Homo sapiens: one gene and its partners. The protein of the gene in region 4 purifies or fractionates together with the protein of the main gene of each other region. This does not show direct contact. Each region holds a gene or a part of one and is shown on either strand. Other genes may lie near its edges.

What was found.
Region 1: the proteins of FURIN (region 4) and GNAI2 purify together in Homo sapiens (affinity purification with mass spectrometry, with the first as the bait; one large-scale study listed by BioGRID). This does not show direct contact.
Region 2: the proteins of FURIN (region 4) and SLC38A10 purify together in Homo sapiens (affinity purification with mass spectrometry; one large-scale study listed by BioGRID and IntAct). This does not show direct contact.
Region 3: the proteins of FURIN (region 4) and PTPRD purify together in Homo sapiens (affinity purification with mass spectrometry; one large-scale study listed by BioGRID and IntAct). This does not show direct contact.
Region 5: the proteins of FURIN (region 4) and PFKL purify together in Homo sapiens (affinity purification with mass spectrometry, with the first as the bait; one large-scale study listed by BioGRID). This does not show direct contact.
Region 6: the proteins of FURIN (region 4) and RRM2B purify together in Homo sapiens (affinity purification with mass spectrometry, with the first as the bait; one large-scale study listed by BioGRID). This does not show direct contact.
Region 7: the proteins of FURIN (region 4) and ERLIN2 purify together in Homo sapiens (affinity purification with mass spectrometry, with the first as the bait; one large-scale study listed by BioGRID). This does not show direct contact.

The regions. Positions count from the first base shown.
Region 1 is NC_000003.12:50,249,704-50,253,203, forward strand, and holds part of GNAI2 (guanine nucleotide-binding protein G(i) subunit alpha-2), read left to right. Parts: intron 1-1,916; exon of another isoform or gene 1,917-1,970; coding exon of another isoform or gene 1,971-2,040; intron 2,041-2,396; coding exon 2,397-2,439; intron 2,440-2,693; coding exon 2,694-2,835; intron 2,836-3,320; coding exon 3,321-3,481; intron 3,482-3,500. UniProt on the Homo sapiens protein: Guanine nucleotide-binding proteins (G proteins) are involved as modulators or transducers in various transmembrane signaling systems.
Region 2 is NC_000017.11:81,285,308-81,288,807, reverse strand, and holds part of SLC38A10 (solute carrier family 38 member 10), read left to right. Parts: intron 1-1,458; exon of another isoform or gene 1,459-1,463; intron 1,464-3,500. UniProt on the Homo sapiens protein: Facilitates bidirectional transport of amino acids. May act as a glutamate sensor that regulates glutamate-glutamine cycle and mTOR signaling in the brain. The transport mechanism remains to be elucidated.
Region 3 is NC_000009.12:8,485,503-8,489,002, reverse strand, and holds part of PTPRD (receptor-type tyrosine-protein phosphatase delta isoform 1 precursor), read left to right. Parts: intron 1-2,653; coding exon 2,654-3,241; intron 3,242-3,500.
Region 4 is NC_000015.10:90,878,588-90,881,272, forward strand, and holds part of FURIN (furin isoform 1 preproprotein), read left to right. Parts: intron 1-176; coding exon 177-389; intron 390-856; coding exon 857-957; intron 958-1,083; coding exon 1,084-1,187; intron 1,188-1,279; coding exon 1,280-1,397; intron 1,398-1,506; coding exon 1,507-1,686; intron 1,687-2,103; coding exon 2,104-2,228; intron 2,229-2,342; coding exon 2,343-2,453; intron 2,454-2,685. UniProt on the Homo sapiens protein: Ubiquitous endoprotease within constitutive secretory pathways capable of cleavage at the RX(K/R)R consensus motif. Mediates processing of TGFB1, an essential step in TGF-beta-1 activation.
Region 5 is NC_000021.9:44,306,553-44,310,052, forward strand, and holds part of PFKL (ATP-dependent 6-phosphofructokinase, liver type), read left to right. Parts: intron 1-128; coding exon 129-202; intron 203-707; coding exon of another isoform or gene 708-776; intron 777-3,500. UniProt on the Homo sapiens protein: Catalyzes the phosphorylation of D-fructose 6-phosphate to fructose 1,6-bisphosphate by ATP, the first committing step of glycolysis.
Region 6 is NC_000008.11:102,225,462-102,228,961, reverse strand, and holds part of RRM2B (ribonucleoside-diphosphate reductase subunit M2 B), read left to right. Parts: intron 1-2,927; coding exon 2,928-3,044; intron 3,045-3,500.
Region 7 is NC_000008.11:37,750,134-37,753,633, forward strand, and holds part of ERLIN2 (erlin-2), read left to right. Parts: intron 1-261; coding exon 262-353; intron 354-1,492; coding exon 1,493-1,582; intron 1,583-3,316; coding exon 3,317-3,396; intron 3,397-3,500. UniProt on the Homo sapiens protein: Component of the ERLIN1/ERLIN2 complex which mediates the endoplasmic reticulum-associated degradation (ERAD) of inositol 1,4,5-trisphosphate receptors (IP3Rs) such as ITPR1.

The DNA of each region.
Region 1 (3,500 bases), on a different chromosome or scaffold from region 4:
CCCAACTAGCTGTCACTCCCCATCTCCCCAGATCCCCTCCCCTCATCCTGGAAAGCAGGCCTGGGACAGTCAGAAGCTCAGTGATTGCAGGCGCCTGATGGCATTTGTGAGGAGGGCTCAGGCCTTTCCCCTCAGGGTGGTCTCTGGCGTAGGGGGCTGAAGGTGGGCAGGGGCCTTGGCAAGGCCTGCCACCATGTCCCAATGCCTGCTGCCGCTTGTTGAGCACTGCAGACATGGCCCAGAGTCTGCCTGGGGAGCTAGGGAGTGAACCCAGTGCCAGGTGGACTGTGTGGCTCCGCTGCAGTACCAGGTACTTAGGACAGCTCTAGGAGGGACTGCACGGTGGGCAAGTGTGCTCCCTGCAGAGGGGACTCTAACCCTGTGACCTCAGCCTCCCTGGACCTCAGTTCCTTCACTGGTTAGATTGGGGTGAGAATGGAACCTACCTCCCAGGATTGCTGTGGAGATGGCAGTTGGTGGGTGTCATTGATGTAGAGCAGCATCTGGCACATGGTGGGCGCTGTTTTCATATAGCTTTGCTGTCGATATTGCCGATGTTATTGTTACTGCTTGTGTTCGTTTGTGTGTTAGCACCTTCATCCTCTGAGGTTGTTTTGACCAGCCCCAAGGGATGCTGTTGAGCTTGGCCAGAGTACCCAAGTTTGACCTCTGCACAGACCTTACTACCCACCCAGCTAAGCTGCACAGAGGAACAAACGTGCCACAGTGATCAGAATTGGGACACTGTGAATGGGGCATGGGGCACGTATTCCCGGCAAAGAGAACAGCATGAGCAGGGCCCTGGAGATAGCTAGAGGTAGTGCCTGGCAGCTGCAGGTGTGACTGGCAGTGATGGAGCAGGAGCACAGGGTCTGGGAAGGACAGCAGGGCCCAGCTGGGGGCCATTCAACCTGGAGCTCAAGACAAGCCAGCAGCAAGGGAGCAAGGTCAAGGTGAGGCCCTGCCTCCACTCCCTCTGGCCCCCAGCCAGGGAGTTGGGTGGCCCCCCTGGTCCTTCTTTACACAGACTCCCTGGGTAATACAGGCTCCTGGGCTGCACTCCTCAAGATCTGGCTCTGTTGTCTGGGATGGGACCTGGGAGTCTGCTTTTTTTTTTTTTTTTTAGACCAAGTTTCGCTCTTGTTGCCCAGGCTGGAGCGCAATGGCACAATCTCGGCTCACTGCAACCTCCACCTCCCAGGTTCAAGCGATTCTTCTGCCTCAGCCTCCCGAGCCGCTGGGATTACAGGCACCTGCCACCACGCCTGGCTAGTTTTTGTTATTTTTAGAAGAGATGGGGTTTCAACATGTTGGCCAGGCTGGTCTCGAACTCCTGACCTCAGGTGATCCACCTGCCTCAGCCTCCCAAAGTGCTGGGATTACAGGCATGAGCCACCACTCCCGGCGGAATCTGCTTTTTTAAACACCTCCCCAAGGCATTGTCCCGCAGGGTCTCAGCCACATTTTGAGAATGGCAGGGTGGACCAGGCATCATGGGTTCCCTCCACCCTCTTGCCCTTCTGAGTCCTGGCTACATGATCTTAGATCAATACTTTATTTTTCTGAGCCTCAATGTCCTCATCTGTAGAATGGGAACAGAAACAGTATCTGCTGTGACTAATACAGGAGAGAATGCAGCAAATCTCAGTACCAGCTAAAGAGAAATATGGGCCAGGGCTGTACCAGGCCAGGGAAAAGCTTGAGTCAGTATGGGCGTGTGTGGGTGTGGGTGTGTGAGATACGCCGCAGGTCTCCCAGATTCATGAGTCAGTACGCGTGTGTGTTACACTGTAGGTCTCCTAGATTCTAGCCTTCTAGCCTCCATCTGCTCAGGGCAGACCTGAGCGCAGTGAGCAGAGGGCGGGGCATTGGGCCATGTCCAGAAAGCTGAAGTGTGACGCTGTGCTCCTGCTTAGGCCCCTGGTTGCTAAGGCTCAGTGTGGGGAGAAGAAGGGCTGCTACCCTGTTGGATGGAGTATGCAGGGCATCTTCCTGCCAGCTCTGCCCAGGGCACCATATTGGCATGCACCAGCTGCACAGGTTGGCGAGCCTATGTATGTGAGAACAGGGTGGCTCCTTCATGGCTGGCCAAGTCTCCAGCCAAGACCCCCCAGGACAGTGGGGAGCCATGGTGGGCAGCAGAGCTTGTGGGAGGCAAAGGCCTGCAGAGAGTCTGCCATGGGGCACAGGTGCTCTAGGTTACCTTGACCACTGTGGCCCTGCCAGCTGCATTCCTGGTAGCTCAACTGCCCACCAGGCCCAGCTGCCTCCATCTCACGGTGCAGCTGGTGGGAAGGTTAGTTCTGCCTCCTGGGCTACAGGTGTCTGGGCATTTGTTCTGTGCCTGTGGAGCCCCTCTGGGCCTGCCCCCTGACCACCTGTGCCCTCTGTTCCAGGTGCTGGGGAGTCAGGGAAGAGCACCATCGTCAAGCAGATGAAGTAAGTGCTGTATTCCAGAGGCAGTGCTCAAACTCCAGCTTCCCCTCTTCACCCTCTGGGCCTGCACTGCCCCCGACTACAGGCCCAGCCAGTCTTAGCCAGGCCCAGAATCTTCTGAGAAGCAGAAGGACCCTCAGGTCCCAGTGGGTCAGGGGCAGTTTTCCCTTCTCTGAAGCAGGTCCCAGTAGCCCCAGGCAGCCGTGGGAACTCCCAGTGCCCAGGGGACACTAACCTTCCTGGTCCCTGGCTATCAGGATCATCCACGAGGATGGCTACTCCGAGGAGGAATGCCGGCAGTACCGGGCGGTTGTCTACAGCAACACCATCCAGTCCATCATGGCCATTGTCAAAGCCATGGGCAACCTGCAGATCGACTTTGCCGACCCCTCCAGAGCGGTATGTGCCCTCCGCCCCACCCTCTCCCACCTCCCAAAAGGTTTCGGGGTGGCTGGTTGTGGTGGCTCATGCCTATAAATCCCAGCACTTTGGGACGCCGAGGCGGGTGGATCACCTGAGGTCAGGACCAGCCTGGCCAACTTGGTGAAACCGCGTCTCTACTAAAAATACAAAAATTAGCCGAGCATGGTGGCACGTGCCTGTAATCCCAGCTACTTGGGAGGCTGAAGCAGGAGAATTGCTTGAACCCGGGAGGCAGAGGATGCAGTGAGCCAAGATCGCCCCATTGCACTCTAGCCTTGGTGACAGAGCTAGACTCCGTCACAGAAAAAAGTAAACAACAACAACAAAAAGGTTTTAGGGCAAGTCTCATCCTAGGGAATCCAAGAATACCCTAGCCTGGGCCCCATTCCAGAGGTCTCCCTGCCTCTGGCAGAGTGGGGGTACATTCCTTCAACTGCCTGACCACCCGCCACTGTGCCCAGGACGACGCCAGGCAGCTATTTGCACTGTCCTGCACCGCCGAGGAGCAAGGCGTGCTCCCTGATGACCTGTCCGGCGTCATCCGGAGGCTCTGGGCTGACCATGGTGTGCAGGCCTGCTTTGGCCGCTCAAGGGAATACCAGCTCAACGACTCAGCTGCCTAGTGAGTGCTCTGAGGGGCT
Region 2 (3,500 bases), on a different chromosome or scaffold from region 4:
CCCCAACTCGGAATTCCATGGAGGAAGCTCCTCAGGCCTGGGCTGTTGCTGGAGTTCAGTGGCTCCTCTCCCAGTGGCTGTGTCCTTCCCCTGATGCTGTTGGTTGCAGTTTTGTTTCCCTTAGTTCTTTCTTGCTTTAATGCTGTTTCAGCCAGGAGAGAAGGCTGCGCTTTCTGCTTCATTTCAGTGTGGAATATTTTCTACGTTGTTTGTCTTCGAGGGCGCCATCCCTCACCTTCCCGTCTGCCCACAGGCTGTGTGGCCCGCGCTGTCTCCCTGCCCGCCACAGGCTCGGCACCTCTCGGCTCCACGTTCCATTCTGGGGGCATCCAGCCTGGGTGTTGAAATTCCAGCATCCGTGTTCTCAGGAGTTGGCCCTGTGGGTTTTGGTGAAAACTCTGGCCTTGTGATGAAGGCTCTGGACCTTCCAGCCAGTGTGCGGCTGGGATGTTAGGTCCTCCCTGCAGAAGGCCATCCTGCCCCCCGGGCTCACAGCTCCCGCGGCAGAGTGAGGAGGTGGCGGGAGAGGAAATGGTGTTTAGGGGTCCAGGGGGCCAAACAAAATAAAAACACCTGCACGGTCCACACGTGGGTCCTGGCCTCCCAGCCTCCACTTCCTCCCAGTCCCCTTCATGTTGCCACAGAGAGTCCTGCGTTCGTTTCGGCCCTCAGAACCGGAGGGGATGTATTCCTTCTCCTCCCTTCCTGATGAGAATGGTGCTGTCAGAGTCTTTTCTTGTTGTTATTTGAGGAAGTGAAGTTCACTGTTAAGTTTGATCCACAGTGAGATGGCCTAATGCAACTTGGGCTGAAAGATGCCTACCGGATGCCAGGAGGCACCGTGCCTGGGCGGGCCCCTTCCTGGGTCTGCAGAGCTGTGGCCTGCAGGGCGACCCTTTTCTCCTCACTGAGGTCTCTGTATAGGGTTTCTGTAGCAGAGGCCCCAACTCCAGTCCTTGGCTGTGTCCTGGAAGAAGACCGGTGACCCAGGGCTGGGGAGGCCCCCATTTCTGATAGCCAGCTGTCTATTCATTCAAAGTCCCTGAAAAGTCAAACCAGTTTGGCTACATGTGAAGGACTGGAAGAAAATTGCCGGGTGGGTGCTCTTCTGTGCTGCCTGGAACTCCTGCCTGAGCTTCCAACCTTTACCTGCATGGGGTGACCGCAGTCCACTTCTGCCTGCCAGAAACAAAAAAGATTCCAAAACACCAAGTGTGTCTCAGGTTATGCCTTTGACACCAAACACGGTGGTTCCACTGCGTGAGCTCCGGACAGAGGCCCCTGGGCCCAGCTGCTCCGCGTCAGCTGCAGTGTGCCCTGGCTCGTCTTAGAAGTGGGGAGACCCGCGCTGGGAGAGGCGTCCCTGGGGAGGGTAAGATGAGACTCTCCTGGAGCTGAGGCGAGGCCCTTGTGCAGAGTGGACAGCAGCTCCACACTGCAGTCTTCAGGAGGCGCCGGGCTGGGTCCCGTCCTCGCACACAGACTGACTTTCCCTGGGACGGCTGGGTGGTTTCCTCCGAATGGCATCTGCCCCCACCCAGGCATAGGTTTGCGGTGTAATGGTTCCTCGGGTTGGTTAGCCTGGGGAGGTGGCCGCTGATCGCTTTACCCTCCCCGCTGTCCTCCAGTGCCATGTGCCAGCCTGGAGAGGTGTCGTTTTTTGTTGGTGTTTGTATATTTCCCTGTCCTATTTGCTGTTGCTGGTTGCAGGTGGTTTTTGTCGTTTTCGTCACCTTCTCACTTGCTGCTTCCTTGCCCTGCGTGTCTTGCTTGGACATGGACTTTTCTAAATCCCCTCTTCAGAAGACACACAGATACATCAGTCATTCAGCCTCCTTCAGCTGTCGCGGCTTCTCATGAAGCTGTTCTGAGCCCCAGACCCTGCCCTGTTGAGAGTTGTGCCTGAACCCTGGCATGCGTGGTCTGGGCTAGAAACCGCCTCCCCCAGCAGCAGGGACTGTTTGGCCCCCACGCGGCCTCTGAGTTCTCGGTTGTGAGCAGCGGTGTCAGGAGTGCTGCCCGCGTCCTTTCGTTGGGTGGTCCAGGCTTCTGTGGCTCCTGTGCTGGCTCTGGGGGAGATCTGACTGCACCTGGGGTAGGGTACACCCTGCATGGAGGCCGCGCCCTCAGAGCTCGCCGCTCACAGATACCTCCAGCCTGGCAGGGGCTGGGCCCGCACTGGGAGTCCACACTCGGGGGAGGGCTGGGTCCCCGGGACCTTGCTGGGCGCTTCAGCCTCTTCCTCCCTTTCTCTGTGCCAGTCCACGCAGGATGTGAAGGAGTGGGGTCAGTCCAACTGGGGCTGGTGTTTGAACCTGGGGAGGAGAAGTTGCCGAGGGATTGACACTGGGAATGGCGGGTGAGGGTTTGGCCCAGGTGGGGAAAAGAAGGCGCGTGGGGCCGTGTCTCAGCGTGGTGGGCTCTCAGGACGTTGTCCTGGGAACCAGAAGAGAGTGCTGCCCTGATTTCCTAGACAGCCTCCCATTTTCCCTTGCCAGTGGCAGGCATATTCCGGAACCTTCTTGGGCAAGGTGCGCTCGTGTTTGGAATATGCTGTAGAGACTCAGCTTCCTTTTGGAGAATGAAAAGGCACATTATGGCCAGGAGCAACTTCATGTTTGGAGCGCCGTGTTTTGTTGCTTCCGGGCTGTGCCGTCACTGAGGGGTGTGGAGGGCGTTCCTTGGTGACAGCAGGGCCCTGGGCTGTGGGCTGCTGAGGGGGCTCCTGGAGTTCTTAGTGTTTGAAACTCTCCACAGCCTCAGGTCAGCTTCTGGGGCCTGGCTCGGGTTTCCGTGTTGTGGGATGAACTCAAGGGGTGCCAGGCTTCTTCAGCGAGCCCATAGGCAGGTCCAGGAAAGGCCAGGGTGAGCCCTGGAGGTGGGGTCTTTGCTGCTCCCGGGCTCTGGCGTTTGGCAACGCTGTGCTTCTTCCTAAGTAGTTTAAAGTAATAAGGAGTGTTTTTTGGACCCATTCATAGTTACTAGCCTGTGTGTTTCCTGCTTTCCAAAGCTCATCAGAGGCCTGTAGCCCGTGGGAGGAAGGAAACCAGGGGCAGGAAGCTGGGGCTGCCGACGGGGCTGGGCCATCCTGCCACATGCACCGCATCTCTGGGTGCGCCTTGGAGCCGGGACTTCCCTTTGCCCTTCTCCGGCTGGGCCGTGGGGGAAGCGCGGGGGTCACCAGATGACCGCTCGGGGCCTGGGAGGGACCCTGCTGAGTCAGCGCCGTTTCTCATCTGCTGCAGAGAATCCCGCGGTCAGGGCGGAGAGAATGGCGGCTCCTTCCGCATTCGGCCGCCCCGTCGGGAACGCATGCTCCTCATCGGCAAGGCTCCTCATTAGCTGTCCACGTGGACACCACAAGCCCAGGGCTCTCGTCCCCTCCCTTCCTGAAGCACCATGCTCGAAAGGAGTCTCCATTTGTTTCTATAAATCCCAACCAAAGGGTGAAAATGAAAGCCCTCCGTCAGAGTCCCTCTGGTGCAGGCTGTGGCGCTCGG
Region 3 (3,500 bases), on a different chromosome or scaffold from region 4:
GAAACAGGATACACGGTGTATATATTATTATGCAGTTCGTTGGAACTAGAATTTCAAAAAATTTTAATAAATATGTTTAATCTGTTGCCTCTGGAGAATATTGAGAATTAATAGTTGTGTTTCCACCCACTCGTTTCAACGGAGTTTCATATATTGAAGGCTGTATTCTCTGTTGAAAGCTCTATTTCACCATGGATTTTTCTCAGCAGAGACTCAGGTGTTTAATCCTTGACACCATCACTGACATTTGGACAAATCATGTAAATGCTCTATACACATAAAGGGGAATTAAAGATGTCTGCCAATGTCCCTACATTAAAGTACTATTTTAAAATTAAGATAATTGTAAATATATTAAAAGCAAGTGGAATAGTTCACACAGTTTCCAACTTATGGATGGGTGGTGTTCTGAGAGTGTGTGTTGGTCGTTAAGATCTCTGGATGCATTTTTCCTGAGGAACACAATGAGTACACAATGATGTGGTTCCTGGGCCTACCTTCAACACACATGTTTTATATATACAACACAACACACATGTTTTATATATACAACACAACACACATGTTTTATATGTATAACACAGCACACATGTTGTTGAATAATTATTTATCTAAAAACTTTAGAAACTATTGTTTTCATACATTGTAGATTAGCTGAGTTATATCAGCATGTGATGAATCTTCCCAGCATGTGAAACAAAACTGTTGCTCCATTGGTTAAGGAAATAAATATCTTAATGATATTTCTTAGAGCAGAGCACATCTCCACTTGGGTTTCACTTTCTGAAATACAAAATGAAGAGGCTAATCAGTCCATCTCTGAGGTTAATATTCTATGTATTGTCTCATAATCTTTTTAGTGATTTTTTTACCTTCATCTATATCCCCATGGTATGATTTTTTATCACCTGTTTCCCATTACTGTAAGCTTTCCTCCTTTCCTACCATCTTTCTTTTTCTTCACATTCATAATTTTGAGGCACAGTTTCACTGTCACTCAGGCTGGACAGCAATGGTGTGATCATAGCTCACTGCAGCCTCAAACTCTTTGGCTCAAGCAATTCTCCCACCTCAGCCCCCTGAGTGGCTAAGACTACAGACATGTGACACCATGCCTTCCCCCCTCCCCCCGTAGAGATAAGGTCTTGCTATGTTGCCAAGCTGTTTGTTTGTTTGTTTGTTTGTTTGTTTTTGAGACGGAATTTGCTCTTGTTGCCCAGGCTGGAGTGCAGTGGCATGATCTCGGCTCACTGCAACCTCTGCCTCCCGGGTTCAAGTGATGCTCCTGCCTCAGCCTCCCGAGTAGCTGGGATTACAGGCATGCACCACCACACCTGGCTATTTTTGTGTTTTTTGTAGAGACAGGGTTTCTCCATGTTGGTCAGGCTGGTCTCAAACTCCCAACCTCAGGTGATCCACTGCTTCCCAAAGTGCTGGGATTACTGGTGTGAGCCACCACACCCAGCCGCTGGTTTTGAACTCTTGGGCTCAAGCAGTCCTCCCACCTCAGCTCCCAAAGTGCTGGGATTATAGACATGAGCCACCATACTTGGCCTTTCTTCTTCTTTCTGTTAACTTGGTTTAGTTTTTATTCTGATGATCATCCCTCAATGTCTTTCACTGTGGATTCCAATAATAATTGCTCTCCATTAAAAATAAATACAGACATAATAATACATTGAATGAGTAGATTAGACCTTTTCACATATCTAACTTAAAGGTAAATAAATTATGTATTCATTGGAAGCTAGCCTTTCACCATAAGAAGTTTAATATTCAGATTATTAATAATTATGGTTAATATTGATAGAATGCAGAACCTCATGCTAAGACTTTTACATGAATTTCCTCATTTATTATTCATAAGAACAATATAAAATAGCTCTTAATATAATTCCCATTTTACAGATGAAGAACTTGATGAATGATGTGGATAGTAAAGTTAGAAAGTGCAAATTAAATTCATAGTAAGTCAATACGATATTATTTTGTAGTTTGGTTTTTTTTTAAACTTTTAAGCAACATAGCAGCACAATTAAGCATTTAAGCAGTCGACTCCAGACAGAGGTGGGTTTGCCTTATAGATTTCTCACTTGTTACATGCTAGCCTTGGAAAGTTTTCTACCTCTCTGGGCCTCATTTTCTCATTATAGAAGATAGAGATAATAATAACTAATCCGAGAATGTAGTGAGGAGTCAGGAATGTAAACCAATTGTGAATACTATATGCAATGCACTTAGCGTGACGCCGGTACATTGCACATATTCAACGAATAAATAATCATTATAGTTATTCTTATTAGCCATATCTAATTGGCTGATCTTTGCTCAAATTAATTTATCTTTGATATGAACCTTTATGTGTGAAGGTTTAAAACGTGCAGGTGTCAAAAAAATCCCCTTAAGCTGTTGTTTCAATGATAATTTCTGTTTTGTGTCCATTATCAAATTCTAGTATCTCAGCCTACTTTAATAAAGTAAGACAAGGAGCATATTTCCACAAAGGTATGTAGGTCAAACATTGCCTGTTTTGTTTTGTTTTGGTAAGTAAGAAAATGGGAATACCAGTAGAGTGGAACTCCCTCATTTGGCAATGACTGAAATGTGAACGTTCAGATTGGTTGGTCTTACCACTCCATCCCATGTGCTCCAGTTCCAGGGAAACCTCGGCTTGTGATTAACCACACTCAGATGAATACTGCTCTTATTCAGTGGCACCCTCCGGTGGACACATTTGGACCTCTTCAGGGCTACCGTCTAAAATTTGGCCGCAAGGATATGGAGCCACTTACTACTCTTGAGTTCTCTGAAAAAGAAGATCACTTTACAGCTACAGACATCCACAAGGGAGCATCATACGTCTTCAGGCTCTCAGCCAGAAACAAAGTGGGCTTTGGGGAGGAGATGGTGAAGGAGATTTCCATTCCAGAAGAAGTACCAACTGGATTCCCTCAAAACCTTCACTCAGAAGGCACCACTTCAACCTCCGTCCAGTTATCTTGGCAACCACCTGTCCTGGCAGAGAGAAATGGCATTATCACCAAGTATACCCTTCTTTATAGGGATATCAACATCCCCCTTCTCCCGATGGAGCAGCTTATTGTTCCAGCTGACACCACTATGACACTCACTGGCTTAAAACCAGATACCACATACGATGTAAAAGTACGTGCTCATACGAGCAAAGGGCCCGGGCCATATAGTCCCAGTGTCCAGTTCAGGACACTGCCTGTGGATCAAGGTAGGATTTGTCTGCTTACGGCCTTCCTCCTTTAAAGGATTGTCAGTCTTTGGAAATCAGTATTTTGAAGCTATAATAACTGATCAGCCCATTCATATTAATAGGTTCAGCAAAAACAAAAAGGTAAAGTATGTAAAACTTACTACGTCTTGGATGCCTTAGATTTCAGTTATAGAATGTCAAGCAAGTCTGGCTGACAGCACCCCAATGTCCTCAGGTAAGGAAAACACAATAGAGTTGGCTGAATTGGAGAGAAAGG
Region 4 (2,685 bases):
TTTTGTGTGCCTAGATAGACATATTTGGATACATACTTGATCCACCAGGGATCTCACAGGGGACAGGAGGTTCCCAGAGAATGAGGCTCCAGCCTTCCCAGTTTTCCAGCAGTGTCCTCCTGCCAGCCCTCCCTCAAGTCCCAATCTTGAATGACCCCAGCCCACTCTGTCCACAGGGCCGAGGGGGGCTGGGCTCCATCTTTGTCTGGGCCTCGGGGAACGGGGGCCGGGAACATGACAGCTGCAACTGCGACGGCTACACCAACAGTATCTACACGCTGTCCATCAGCAGCGCCACGCAGTTTGGCAACGTGCCGTGGTACAGCGAGGCCTGCTCGTCCACACTGGCCACGACCTACAGCAGTGGCAACCAGAATGAGAAGCAGATCGTGAGTCTTACCTGGGGGTGGGGGCTGGGGAGATGGGGCTGCTGGCTGGCTCTGTCCAGCACCCTCTTTTGGAGGCTGTCTGCCTCCACCCCCATGTGGCTGGGTGATAGTGGCTCAGGCATCATGCAACATGAACTCTGGGGCTCTGTAGGTTCTTGGAGGCCATGGAGCCATCTCTGAAGACTTTGAAAAGCCTAGACTCTCTCTAAAAACATACTTTGTTCTTATTCATCTCCACCCTCTAGTTGAACCCCCTTATTCCTTTGGAAAATGAGGCCCAGGAGGGGCTCGTCATTAGCATGTCCACGGCAAGTTAGCAAGGCAGCAGCTGGGACCTGGGGTTCTTGGCCCTGGCTCCCCATACCATCTGTGGTGCCCAGGGCCTGTATGCAGAGGGAGGGTAGGCAGGTGGCTCCTCTAGCCCCCTCCACCCATCACAGGCCCCAATATGATTCTCTTCCTGGCAGGTGACGACTGACTTGCGGCAGAAGTGCACGGAGTCTCACACGGGCACCTCAGCCTCTGCCCCCTTAGCAGCCGGCATCATTGCTCTCACCCTGGAGGCCAAGTAAGTGGGTGGGGGCCAGCGGCAACCCTGTCCCTACCAGCACTCTCTGTAGGGCAGCCCTTAGGGCAGCTGGAGAGCTGCTCCCAAAAAAGACTGATCCCCAGCCTCTCCCTTCCTTCTTTGCAGTAAGAACCTCACATGGCGGGACATGCAACACCTGGTGGTACAGACCTCGAAGCCAGCCCACCTCAATGCCAACGACTGGGCCACCAATGGTGTGGGCCGGAAAGGTGAGGGCAGGCTGGCCCGGCAGGCTGGATGTGGAGTTAGGTAGAAGGCACTCTGTGCCTGACAGCTGACCCTACCTTCCCTGTCCCCACAGTGAGCCACTCATATGGCTACGGGCTTTTGGACGCAGGCGCCATGGTGGCCCTGGCCCAGAATTGGACCACAGTGGCCCCCCAGCGGAAGTGCATCATCGACATCCTCACCGAGCCCAAGTGAGGGCTGGACCCAGGCTGGGAGGGGGCCAGTGGGACCTGAGAGTCGCAGGGGGTGCCCGCTGGTCCCTCTGGGCCAGGCTGACCATCATGGTGCTCTCCTGCACAGAGACATCGGGAAACGGCTCGAGGTGCGGAAGACCGTGACCGCGTGCCTGGGCGAGCCCAACCACATCACTCGGCTGGAGCACGCTCAGGCGCGGCTCACCCTGTCCTATAATCGCCGTGGCGACCTGGCCATCCACCTGGTCAGCCCCATGGGCACCCGCTCCACCCTGCTGGCAGCCAGGTGCTTGCTCTGTCCCTGCCCGCCCTGCCCAGCGCCGCCGCCTCTCACAGCCCGCGTGCTTGCCTTTGCTCGCTCACACGGCCCAGGGGGCACTGAGTGCTACTCAGTGGGGCACTCTTGGCATTTTGGGAGGGACAATTTTGTCCTGTGGGACTGTCCCATGTTGCAGGAATCCCTGGCTTGCAACCATTTAATGTCAGTAGTGTGCCCCACCTTGTGCGGTGCCTGTGTACCTTTCTAGAATCCCCCAGTTGAGCACGTCTGGCTCACTGAGAAACAGCCAAGCCAGCAGGCACTTCTGGCCCCATGGGGTTGGTCTGCGTGGGGGAAGGGTGTGTGGCCCATGTGCTGTGGGTTAGATGTCCCTGGCTTGGGGTCCCGCAGAGGCCTCAGGGCTGTGTGCACTCCCCTCCCCAGGCCACATGACTACTCCGCAGATGGGTTTAATGACTGGGCCTTCATGACAACTCATTCCTGGGATGAGGATCCCTCTGGCGAGTGGGTCCTAGAGATTGAAAACACCAGCGAAGCCAACAACTATGGTACTGGGGGCACTTGAGGGGTAGGGGTACGAGGTGGAGGGCTGGCAGGATCTCGAGCACTGGGTGTGGTGCCAGCACTGTCTTAACTCTTGCCTCCTCCCCGCTCTGGAACAGGGACGCTGACCAAGTTCACCCTCGTACTCTATGGCACCGCCCCTGAGGGGCTGCCCGTACCTCCAGAAAGCAGTGGCTGCAAGACCCTCACGTCCAGTCAGGCCTGTGTGGGTCAGTAGTGGGTGCTGTTGGGCTTTGGGGGCCTGAGTCTGGGGGTAAGGCGGGTGCCTGTCCTGAAGCCCAGCTCTAACAGAAAAAAGTCTCAAGAGACCTAGGGCCCCTGGGGCTCTTGGGATGACCACAGTCCTGGGGCTGGAGGATCCTGGGGATGTGGTGACTTGGCTTGGGGCTGCTGTGGTCCTGGGGCTACAGTCTGTTTAGCTGACACACACTTGCCCTCTCT
Region 5 (3,500 bases), on a different chromosome or scaffold from region 4:
CCACCACCCGCCCTCTGAGATGGACAGGGTGTCCAGGCCTCCCCTACCCCCTGTCCTCTGAGATGGGGAGGGTGTCCAGGGCCTTGCTTCTCAGCGTGGGACTGACAGGTTTGCCCTGACCTCCACAGGCATGAACGCTGCTGTCCGGGCTGTGACGCGCATGGGCATTTATGTGGGTGCCAAAGTCTTCCTCATCTACGAGGTAAGGCCAAGGTGGGCTGTGTGTGTGCAGGGAGTGGGGACCTCCTGAGGCGCATGCCGAGGTGTGTTCTGTGTGGGTCACACTGGGAGACGGGGTGGTCCTGGCCTGGAGGAGCTGATGGGTATGTGGTCTTGGGGAGTGTGAGGGGGAGCTTGGGGCCAGGCCAAAGGCATCTGCAGAAAGAAGACCTACTGCCTTGGGACTCAGCCCGGCTGGAGGCTCAGAGGCTGCAGAGCACGGGCCTGGGGGCAGGGAAGGAGCTGGGTGGACAAGGAGTCGAGGCCCTGCCTACAGTGATCGCTGACGGGCCAGGCCCCACCCACCACACCCCTGCCTGGTGTCCCCCAGCCTGGCCCTTGTCCCGCCCCGAGGCCTCTGTGAGTGGGGGCCAGGGACCTCACCGCCTCTGCCCTTGTCCTCCCCAGCCTCCTGCCTCACCACCCAGACCCGGGGGGCAGCCGCTGGCAGCAGCTCTGCTGTGTCTATGTTCATTGTGTCCCCGCAGGAGCAGCGGATGCCCTACTGCCTCAGCCCCAGTCCCCGTGGGAGATTTGGGGCTCGCCCTCCGTCCTGGGTATTTACACACCCACACTTGCGCTCACACATGTGCACACACAGGCGCATTCACACACTTGGGCCACACCACGCACTCACAGGCTGCATTCTTGCCTTGTCAGGTGGTTTTCCACATTCCACAAGACAAGGTCTTTTGTTATTTTGTTGCCACTTTTTATGTAATATGTAGCTGTTTATATAAAATGTAGCAACCCCAGCTCTGCAGCCCCAGGCACTCAGCCCCACCCCCCTCACTGCTCACTGCTCGCTGCTGACCACTCACCGCCCTGGGTCTCAGTTCCCCCATCTTGGCCCCAGGGAACAGCAGCCTGTCCAGCCCTCCCTCTGCAGGACTGTGTGAATGAATGAGTGAGTGGGCAGTCTGTGCTGGCCCGTCCTCTCCCTGTGGCCAGGCTGGGGCCCTGCCAGTATTGGATTAGGAAGCAGGTCTCAGAGCCCTGGGGAGCTGGGTGTGGGGGCCTCTCTAGGCAGGCTGGGCTGTGTCCGTACAAACCCCTCCTGCCACCTGCTCGACCTTCAGTTTCTTCTTCTAAGTGGCAAAGGGGAGAAATTAGGGTTTTCCGGAACCCCCACACATTTGTGGTTGGGAAAGACTCCTGTGGCAAAAGACAGAAAACAGGTTCATCGGTGCAGGGCGTGTCCTGGAAAAGGGGAGAAGAGGCACTTTGCCGTGCCTAGAGTCCTGGCTTCTGCAGAGCCCAGCAGAGACCAGTGCACATGGAGAAGCCGAGGGGTACAGGGACGCAGCGTGAGGCCCTCGGAGGTGGGGGAATGCAGGAGGGTGAGTTTATGGGAAAAAGAATGAAGTGGGTGGGCGCGGGTCCTGGGGCTGTCTCTGGGTCCTGAGGGCTGTGAGGGGCATTTACATCCTGTCCAGGCGGTAACAGGAGGAGCCTTAGTCTTGGGATGCTGTGTGCTGCTTTCCTCTCAAAGGGAGGCAAGGCTGAGAGCTTCCCTGAATCTGCTGCCTAGTGGGCTTTAGCTCAGAAACATCCACATCTAAGAGGCAGATTTTGAGATGAGACATTCTGATATAGCGGCCCAGGGAAGACTTCCCCTCCGTCCCATGAAGGTTCTTGGAAGAATCCACTTGCGAAAAGCGGATTAATAGGGCAGAGGTGCTGGCATTCATTGTGAATAGGCATGGAGAGGTAGGGCGAAGATGCTGACCTGCCCTCCTCCCAGGGAAAGGGGCATGGGCAGCCTGGATGATTCTAGGGGGGTAGGAATTTTTTTTTTTTTTTTTTTTGAGACAGAGTCTCATTCTGTTGCCCAGGCTGGAGCGCAGTGGCACAATCTTGGCTCGCTGCAACCTCTGCCTCCCAGGTTCAAGCAATTTTCCTGCCTCAGCCTCCTGAGTAGCTGGGATTACAGGCACCCACCACCACGCCCAGCTGTTTTTTGTATTTTTAGTAGAGACGGGGTTTCACCATGTTGGCCAGCCTGGTCTCGAACTCCTGGCCTCTGGTGATCCACCCGCCTCTGCTTCCCAAAGTGCTGGGATTACAGGCGCGAGCCACTGTGCACGGCCATGAATGGTTTTTAGGGGATTCAATGGGCTTGGACAGCATCTGTTAGCCCTGGTGACCACCTGCCCAAGTGTGTTGGCAGACACAGGTCTTTCTTCCTACGATGACCTCAGTGCATGGAAACTCAGGGAGGGGACTGGCCGTCACTGTTCCTTTCTCCAGCAGCTATGGGCTTTAGGCAGATTCGGGGGCTTCAGGGAGCAGCTGCATCCTGAGCTTGGAGGAGGCAGAGGGTCGAGAGGCAGAAGGGGGAGGTCAGGGAGACCTGCGGCTGCGTCAGTTCACATCAGACTGCATTTTGGGTTTCTGAGCCCCCAGCGCTGGCTTCCTTCAGCAGGGAGACCGATCCCTTCTCCTTGGGGCTATTGTTAGGGCAGAAAGGGAGGGTGGCCTTGGAGGTGAAAACCCTTCTCAGTTCTGACACAAAGGAGGGCTCAGAACAGGCTACTCTTATCCCCCCAGGCAGAGCCCACAGCATAGCAGGGAGGGCCCTGAGCCTGGGTCCAGGCCTGCAGGGGTGAGAGGAGGGGGCGGGGCTAGAGGGGAAGGAGGGGAAGGTGAGCTGGGCCTAGGAGGACAGAGACGGAAACAGAGTGGGTAGAGGGGGGCAAACAGCTTCTAGAAGATTCCAAGGGTAGGAGGAGGTTGTGTCTGTGAGACTGATTCCAGCAGAACTGAGCCACTGGCCTTGTGGGGTCTCTGGGGACTGCTGGGCTGGCCATACCTGCCTGCCCCTCCGCCCAGTGGGGCAGGGGCCTGGCTGGCGCCTGGGCTCTGTATTGGATCCTGAGTTTTGCAGACAGACCTGTGTTTGGTGGCCTCCTGCTCAGGTGGGGCTGTGGGTTTGGGATCATTTTCCTGTTTTCCTTGTTCCTAGCTCAGGGCTGGTACAACCAGAGGGGGCCAGGCTGGCCTGGCCTGAGCCGGAGGAAGTAGCTCTGTGGTCCCTCAGATCAGCCCCTGAGATGGGGCAGGGGCACCTGTCCCCCAGCCCAGCTGGTGGGGAAGGGAGGCTGTCAGGCTAGAAGCCCGCCATGGCCAGAGTGGGGATGTTCATGCGCCCCGCAGCGCGCACTATCCCTTGACCCCCTGCCTGCTTGAGGCACTTGCCCTCCTGGCCCCCAGGGCCCTGACACCTGGTTGGGGAGAAGGCGGAGGGAGGAGCAGAAGCCCACAGCTGAGCTGGCATCCGC
Region 6 (3,500 bases), on a different chromosome or scaffold from region 4:
GAGTAAATAAAAGAAAGGCAAAAGACAAAGACAATTACATATTTCAACTGTTCATGAAGTTAATTATGAAAAATATTTAAAAGATTTTTTCTGACAAAATTGAAGCAGGATAGTTTCTCCGATCCCTTCGTGGGTGGGAACTGGAATGCGCATGCTGGAGCTAGCTGGCTGCTTTGGCGCTGGCAGGGGCAAACTCCACTCACTTGAACCCATTGCGCTCAGCCCCTTGAGGGAGGGAGCATGCAGGTGAGCAGGTGCAGGAGCTTGGGTGAATTCTTTTGGGCACCGGCAGGAGCAAAACTCCATGCAGGCCTCATGGCAGCATCTGTGAGGAGTACCCACAACCCTTGAAGCCCCAGAAGGAATGTGTTATAGTTAACTCTCTTTTAGCTTTTGCTGTCCGCAGATGGCTTAAGTTTTAACGGCTCAGTGGGCCCTCTGCCTTTTCACATGGGGCAGTTGGTCTCCACCAGTGAGGGCAGAGGGTCAGTGTGACAGCTTTTAGCATCCACACCTGTGGCACCCACGCTCTTGTTCAGCATCCAGGAAAAATCAGATCACATGAACAAATCGAAGGGTGGTGAATACAGAGGATTTTGTTGCCAATGAAAGTGGCTCTCAGTGGGAAGAGGAGCTGGAAAGGGGATGGAGTGGAAAAATAATCTTCTCCTGGAGTCTGTCTGGCCGTCCCCAGCTGACTCCTCTCCAAAGGAATGCTGTCAAGCTGTCCCTCTGAAGTTAAGCTGCTTCTCTCCGACATCCAACCGTAGTCTCTGACATCCAGCTGCTTCTCCTCTTCTCCTCTCCTCTTCTCTGCTGGTAGAGCCTGGGGTTTTTATGGGCACAGGGTAGGGGAGTGGGGCCATGGGTGGTTTTGGAAAGGGCAACATTATAGTGGGAAAACAGGAATACATGTCACTTTGGGCTGCAGTTCCAGGATTGAGGGTGGAGTCCTCGCTGGGGACCATCTTCTTCTGCCCAGAATTTCCCTGCCTCCTGTCCCTATCAAAATGATGTCTATATATGCTGTGTGATGGTATTTGGAGGTGGAGCCTTGGGAGGTAATTAGGTCATGTGGGTGGAGCCCTCATGAATAGGATTAGTGCCCTTAAGAGACATGAGAGATATGATCTCTCTCTCTCTGCTATGTCAGGATACAGCAAGAAGGTGGCCATCTGTAAATCAGTAAGAGGGCCTTCACCAATAACCCAACCATGCTGACATCCTGATCTTGGGCTTTCAGCTTCCAGAAATGTTCAAAAAGAAAAATAAAAGTATGCTGTTTAAGCAACCCAGTCAATGGTAATTTGTTATAGCCCCCAGAACTGACTAAGGGAAGGTACATTTAAAGACAATTTTTGGCTGGGTGCAGTGGCTCAGGCCTGTACTCCCAGCACTTTGGGAGGTTGAGGCGGGCAGATCACTTGAGCTCAGGAGTTCAAAACCAGCCTGGGCAATATGGCAAAACCCTGTCACTACCAAAAATACAAAAAATTAGCCAGGCATGGTTTTGTGTGCCTGTGGTCCCACCTGTGCCTCTGGAGGCTGAGGTGGGAGGATTGCTTGAGCCTAGGAGGCAGAGACTGTAGTGAGCTGAGATTGTGCCACCGCACTCCAGACTGGGTGACGGAGTGAAACCCCATCTCAAAAATTAAAAAAATAAACAATTTTTAAATTGTAGGTTTCACCAAATTCTAAAGTACGTCTCCCTTAATTCCAAAGACTAATTCTAATGAACATTTTCAAAAATATTTCCATTCCCAATGGAAGCCATACCTATGTATAAACTGCTTTAAAAAAAAAACTGGGTTGTTGGCCACCTGTGATGGCTCACACCTGTAATCCCAACACTTTGAGAGGCTGAGGTAGGAGGATTGCTTGAGGCCAGGAGATTGAGACCAGCCTGGGCAACATAGTGAGACCCCATCTCTTTAAAAAAACAAAACAAGGCCAGCTGTGGTGGCTCGTGCCTGTAATCCCAGCACTTTGGGAGGCCGAGGCAAACAGATCATGAGGTCAAGAGATTGAGACCATCCTGGCCAACATGGTGAAACTCCGTCTCTACTAAAAAATACAAATAATTAGCTGGGCATGGTGGCGCCTGCCTGTAGTCCCAGCTACTCGGGAGGCTGAGGCAGGAGGATTGCTTGAACCTGGGAGGCGAAGGTTGCAGTGAGCCAAGATCATGCCACTGCACTCTAGCCTGGCGACAGAGCGAGACTTCATCTCAAAACAAAACAAAACTCAGGTTGTTACCTGCCTGGCATTACTTCTGGATGTAAAAGTAGACTGATTACCTGGCAGTAAAGTAGCAGCTACAGTTGGTTAATAGGTGCCTAATTATCTAACACCATAGCACATATTATATAAAATGTTAAAGCAGTGACTGTTGAGATTCATTAGTTTATTTACTTCAGTGCCTTCTTGACTAGTTTTTACTCTCCCCCCTCCCCTTTTAGCCCTTCTTTCATTTGCTTCAGTGCCACTAGATTATGTTAATTTGAATATTTTTAAAGTACATCCTGGCCAGCTTCTTAATTAGCCAGAAAATTCGATTCCATCTTAATTTTTTAAAGATAAATTTTATTGTGTATGTTTAAGGTGTATGACATGATGTTATATATATATATATATAATAAAATGGTTACCCATTATGTAACAAATTAATATTTCCTTTGCCTCACATAGTTTAGCTGTTCACCCCCCCACCAAGAATAGCTGTAATCTACTCATTTAACAAAAATCCTGAATATAATACACTTGTTAACATAACTTTTTTTTTTATTTCTTTGCAGTGCTAACATCTTTCTTTTTCCATAGTTTACTGGTAGTGGGATATTCCTACTTAACAATAGAAGTTAGTTTCCCAAACACTTTGAGAAGAACTTAACTCCAAATTAAAATTTTTGAAAATCTTTTTATTCCAGGTCGACTTATCAAAGGATCTCCCTCACTGGAACAAGCTTAAAGCAGATGAGAAGTACTTCATCTCTCACATCTTAGCCTTTTTTGCAGCCAGTGATGGAATTGTAAATGAAAATTTGGTAAGATTTTTGCTTGATTTAACTTTTGTTCTCCTTTAGCAGTTAAATGATGATAATGTCAGTAAGATTATTAAATTCAGCCAAAGACAAGATGTCTAAAAAATGAACTAGATGAAGCTTAACTCTTTAAATGTTTTTCTGATGAATTGCTTATCCTTTGACCAGCAAACTATTATTAAATCAAGCATAAATGATATGAATCAAAACTATTTACAGTGCATTAACATGAGTTTGATTTTTACTCTCAGATAGTAAGCTTAATAGAGAACCTGCACCTTAACCTTTGGAGCTCTGTAATAGAACACTGGATTCTGGCTCCCCATTTTAAAACTTGATTATGGTTGATCAGGAGGCATAATTTCTTTTTAAAAAGAATTAGAAAGATAGGCCGGGTACGGTGGCTCATACCTGTAATCCCAGCACTTTGGGAGGCTGAGGTGGGCGGATCACGAGGTC
Region 7 (3,500 bases), on a different chromosome or scaffold from region 4:
CAGGAGCAAGAGACCAGTAAGTGGACAGGCAGGTGTATTTTACTAAATTATGTTTTATTTCCCACAAATGAGTTACTTGGGAGGAGAAGAGCTATGTTACTGTCAACAACAGATCAGCTTTTACCTGGGCCATCGAACAGCCTTCCAGGAGGAGTAGGAAATGGGAGTTTGCCTCTCTTCAGCAGAAGAATTCGACTTACCTGGGGATAGTGAAGCTCCTGAGTTTTCCATAGCTGCCTCACGGCTTTTTCTTCTCTTCAGGGAAAGTGAGAAGACAAAGCTTCTCATTGCCGCCCAGAAACAGAAGGTGGTGGAAAAGGAAGCAGAGACAGAGCGGAAGAAGGCGCTCATTGGTCTGAATGTGGTTCTGTGATCCCCCTTTCCAGGCAGAAAGGCTGGGGGTGGTGGGAAGATGCAAGGAGGCTAAGGCCTGGTGAGACCCCATGGTCCTCCAAACCACTTCCACAGCACAGGAGTGGCAGGTGGACTCCCAGAAACAAAGTTGAAATTGTCAGATCATGGCCAAGGATAATGAGTTTTTTGAGTTTCCACTTAACTCTTAAATGAAAGAAGCCCCACCTGTTAATTCTTTCTTTTTTTTTTCTTTTGAGACGGAGTCTTGCTCTGTCACCCAGGCTAGAATGCAGTGGCACGATCTCAGCTTACTGCAGCCTCTGCCTCAGGTTCAAGTGATTCTCCTGTCTCAGCCTCCTGAGTAGCTGGGATTACAGCGGGTGCCGGCACGCCTGGCTAATTTTTGTATTTTTAGTAGAGATGGGGTGTCACCATGTTGGCCAAGCTGGCCTCGAACACTTGACCTCATGATCTGCCCACCTCAGCCTCCCAAAGTGCTGGGATTACAGACGTGAGCCACCGTGCCCAGCCTGTTAATTCTTAATAATAATGGCTAATACTTAATTAAGCAATTACTGTGAGCCACATACTTTTCTAACCACTTAATATGTGGGTTAAGTCAACCCTCACAACCACTGTGGAGGTAGGTACTGTATTATCCTTAACCTCATTTTATCGAACCAAAGCACAGAGGGGTAAAATACCATGCCCAAGGGCATATGGCAAGTAAGGGGTGGAACTGGGGTTCAAACCAAGGACACTGGCTCTAGAAGCTATGTTCTAAGTCACTGCACCGTATTATCAACAACTAACCTGACCCCTGTCTACAGTGAAGGGCCAGGTAGAACCCTACTAGAGTACTTCATTCTTACAGAATATTCCTTTGGGAGAAGTTCCCTTGTGAAGTTAGGGCTCATGCTTCCTATGTTGGGCCCAGGTCTCCTTGGTTACTGTCTCACACTGATGGAAGGGGACTGTGCTCACTGGCATATCCCACTCTGCCCTTGTGTGCACTCACAGCTGCCCTCTGGGGGCTCTCCAGACAAGCTGGCCCACCAGGACACTCAGCTCGGGTGAAAGGTGAAATTAGTCAAACTCTGAAATGCCAGAACCGTAATCCTCACTATCATTTATTCAGAGGCAGAAAAAGTGGCCCAGGTGGCTGAGATCACCTACGGGCAGAAGGTGATGGAGAAGGAGACTGAGAAGAAGATTTCAGAAATTGAAGGTAAGCAGAAGTGGCAGTCATGCCTGAGTCCTCCTCAGACCCCGCCCTGTGGCCAGTGGGTTGGGGAGCCATTGCCTTTGCCCTTTAACTGTGCTCAAGGATGTCATGATCTCTGTGCAACAGCAGCTTTTCTCCATGTGGAGACTTGAGTTTTGAGGCTATTGTGGCCAGGCTAGCATCTGTTTTCTACTTCAGAGAGCATTTGTTCATTCAGCAAATGTGGCTGGAGTGCCAGTATGTGCCCAGGATTTTGTTAGGCATGAGAAAAAGGAAGTCCCGTAGACCCTGCTTTCTTGGAGTTCCCAGGCTAGCAGGGCCTTGGAGCGGTGGGAGTGTACTCTCAGCAGTTGGCTCTCCCCCTTGCCTTAGCTACTTCTGCTCCAAAGTTGGTCAGTGCCACGGTTTTGGGCTCAAAGTCTGTTCTCCAGGTCTATGCAGATATTAAGCCAGGTTTGAAGAAGACAGATTTTCAGCACCTGTCAGACAGGAGCTGGAGAGAAAGGTTTTCTTTGCTGGCTTTTCTGAATATCATTCACCTTCTGTTCCTGCTTCTAAGCCTGCACCTCCTTCCCACTGCCCACCTCTTACTTCTTGGGGTGGCTTATTTCAAGCAAATTCCAAGGCACAACTGGGACCTCAAGGCCCAGCTTCAGGCTACAAAGTGTTATGTCTAATTATACTCATTATTGGGCCTGTCAGGCTTTGCAGGGGCCCATAGAGGAGCCAGTTAGGATTTCACAGATCAGTGGCTCCTCATTAGGGAGCTCTTAGCAAAGCAACACGTTTTTATTTCTCACAAATACATGTCATCAAGTGCTCAGGCCAGCTGAGGGGGCCCCACAGCAGCCAGAACCCTGGCTGGACTGCAGGTTCCTTCCACGCGGGGTCACACTGAGGGCACTCAGTGAAAACCCACCCACAGACTAACCTTTCTCCCAGGCATGTTGCTACATATATTACTCACATGAGGCTGGCCCGTTCCCAAGACAAGGAGGTAAATATCAAAAATTTTCTATCAGCTTGACAGAAAGCTAGTCTCAGAGCTGATTAGGGAAGAATATGACTTGCATAGAGGAATTAAATAGGTCTTAATCCAAACACGTGTTGGTCTGGACCATGGCGTGTAATTCTCTCTCAGAATCGCGCCAGCTTAATCACTGTTAATTAGGACCTTTTTGAAATGATTGATGGAAATAAAAGGGAATTGAAGTTGGAGAGGGACTGAACTATGTTATGTTCGTGGCATTCAGTTTTAGGGTGGATCGACCTCTGACCGTACTTAGAGCCACCTTTGAGCTTTCCTGCTTTTGCTATGTAGCACAAGAGGGAGGAGTGGAGAGCTCTGGCCTAGAGCTTGAGGCAGGGTCCCACTGCTGTGCTACACAGACATGGATCTCCAAAAGAAGTAAGACAGGAAGCGCTTCTGGCTAACAGTGCTTTCTTCCATAGTGCTGTCAACATGTATGTTTGGGCCATAGCCACAGACTTGCTGTCCTTGTCATAGGGAGATGCTTTCAAAACACTTTTTCATCTTAGTTGATCCTTACAACAACTTGTACAATAGGGGAAAATGCATGTAAAACACAGAGGAAAAAGCAGTCTGCCCCAAGTCACAGAGGCAATCAGGGGCGAAGTTCCAGGGACCAGAACAGAGTCTTCCCATAGCCTCTGCACTTCCTGCAAAGAACTCAGTTTTAGCACTTCACCAAGTTCACTGCACTCCTTCCCCCTCAGATGCTGCATTTCTGGCCCGGGAGAAGGCAAAGGCAGATGCTGAGTGCTACACTGCTATGAAAATAGCCGAAGCCAATAAGGTAAAGACCCCGCACAGCCTGATAAAAAGGAGTCTTTGGGTCTGGGTCTGTATTGCAGGAGAGTTTCCAGTGTTGAGCGCCTGCCACCACCCAAAGCCCTTCAT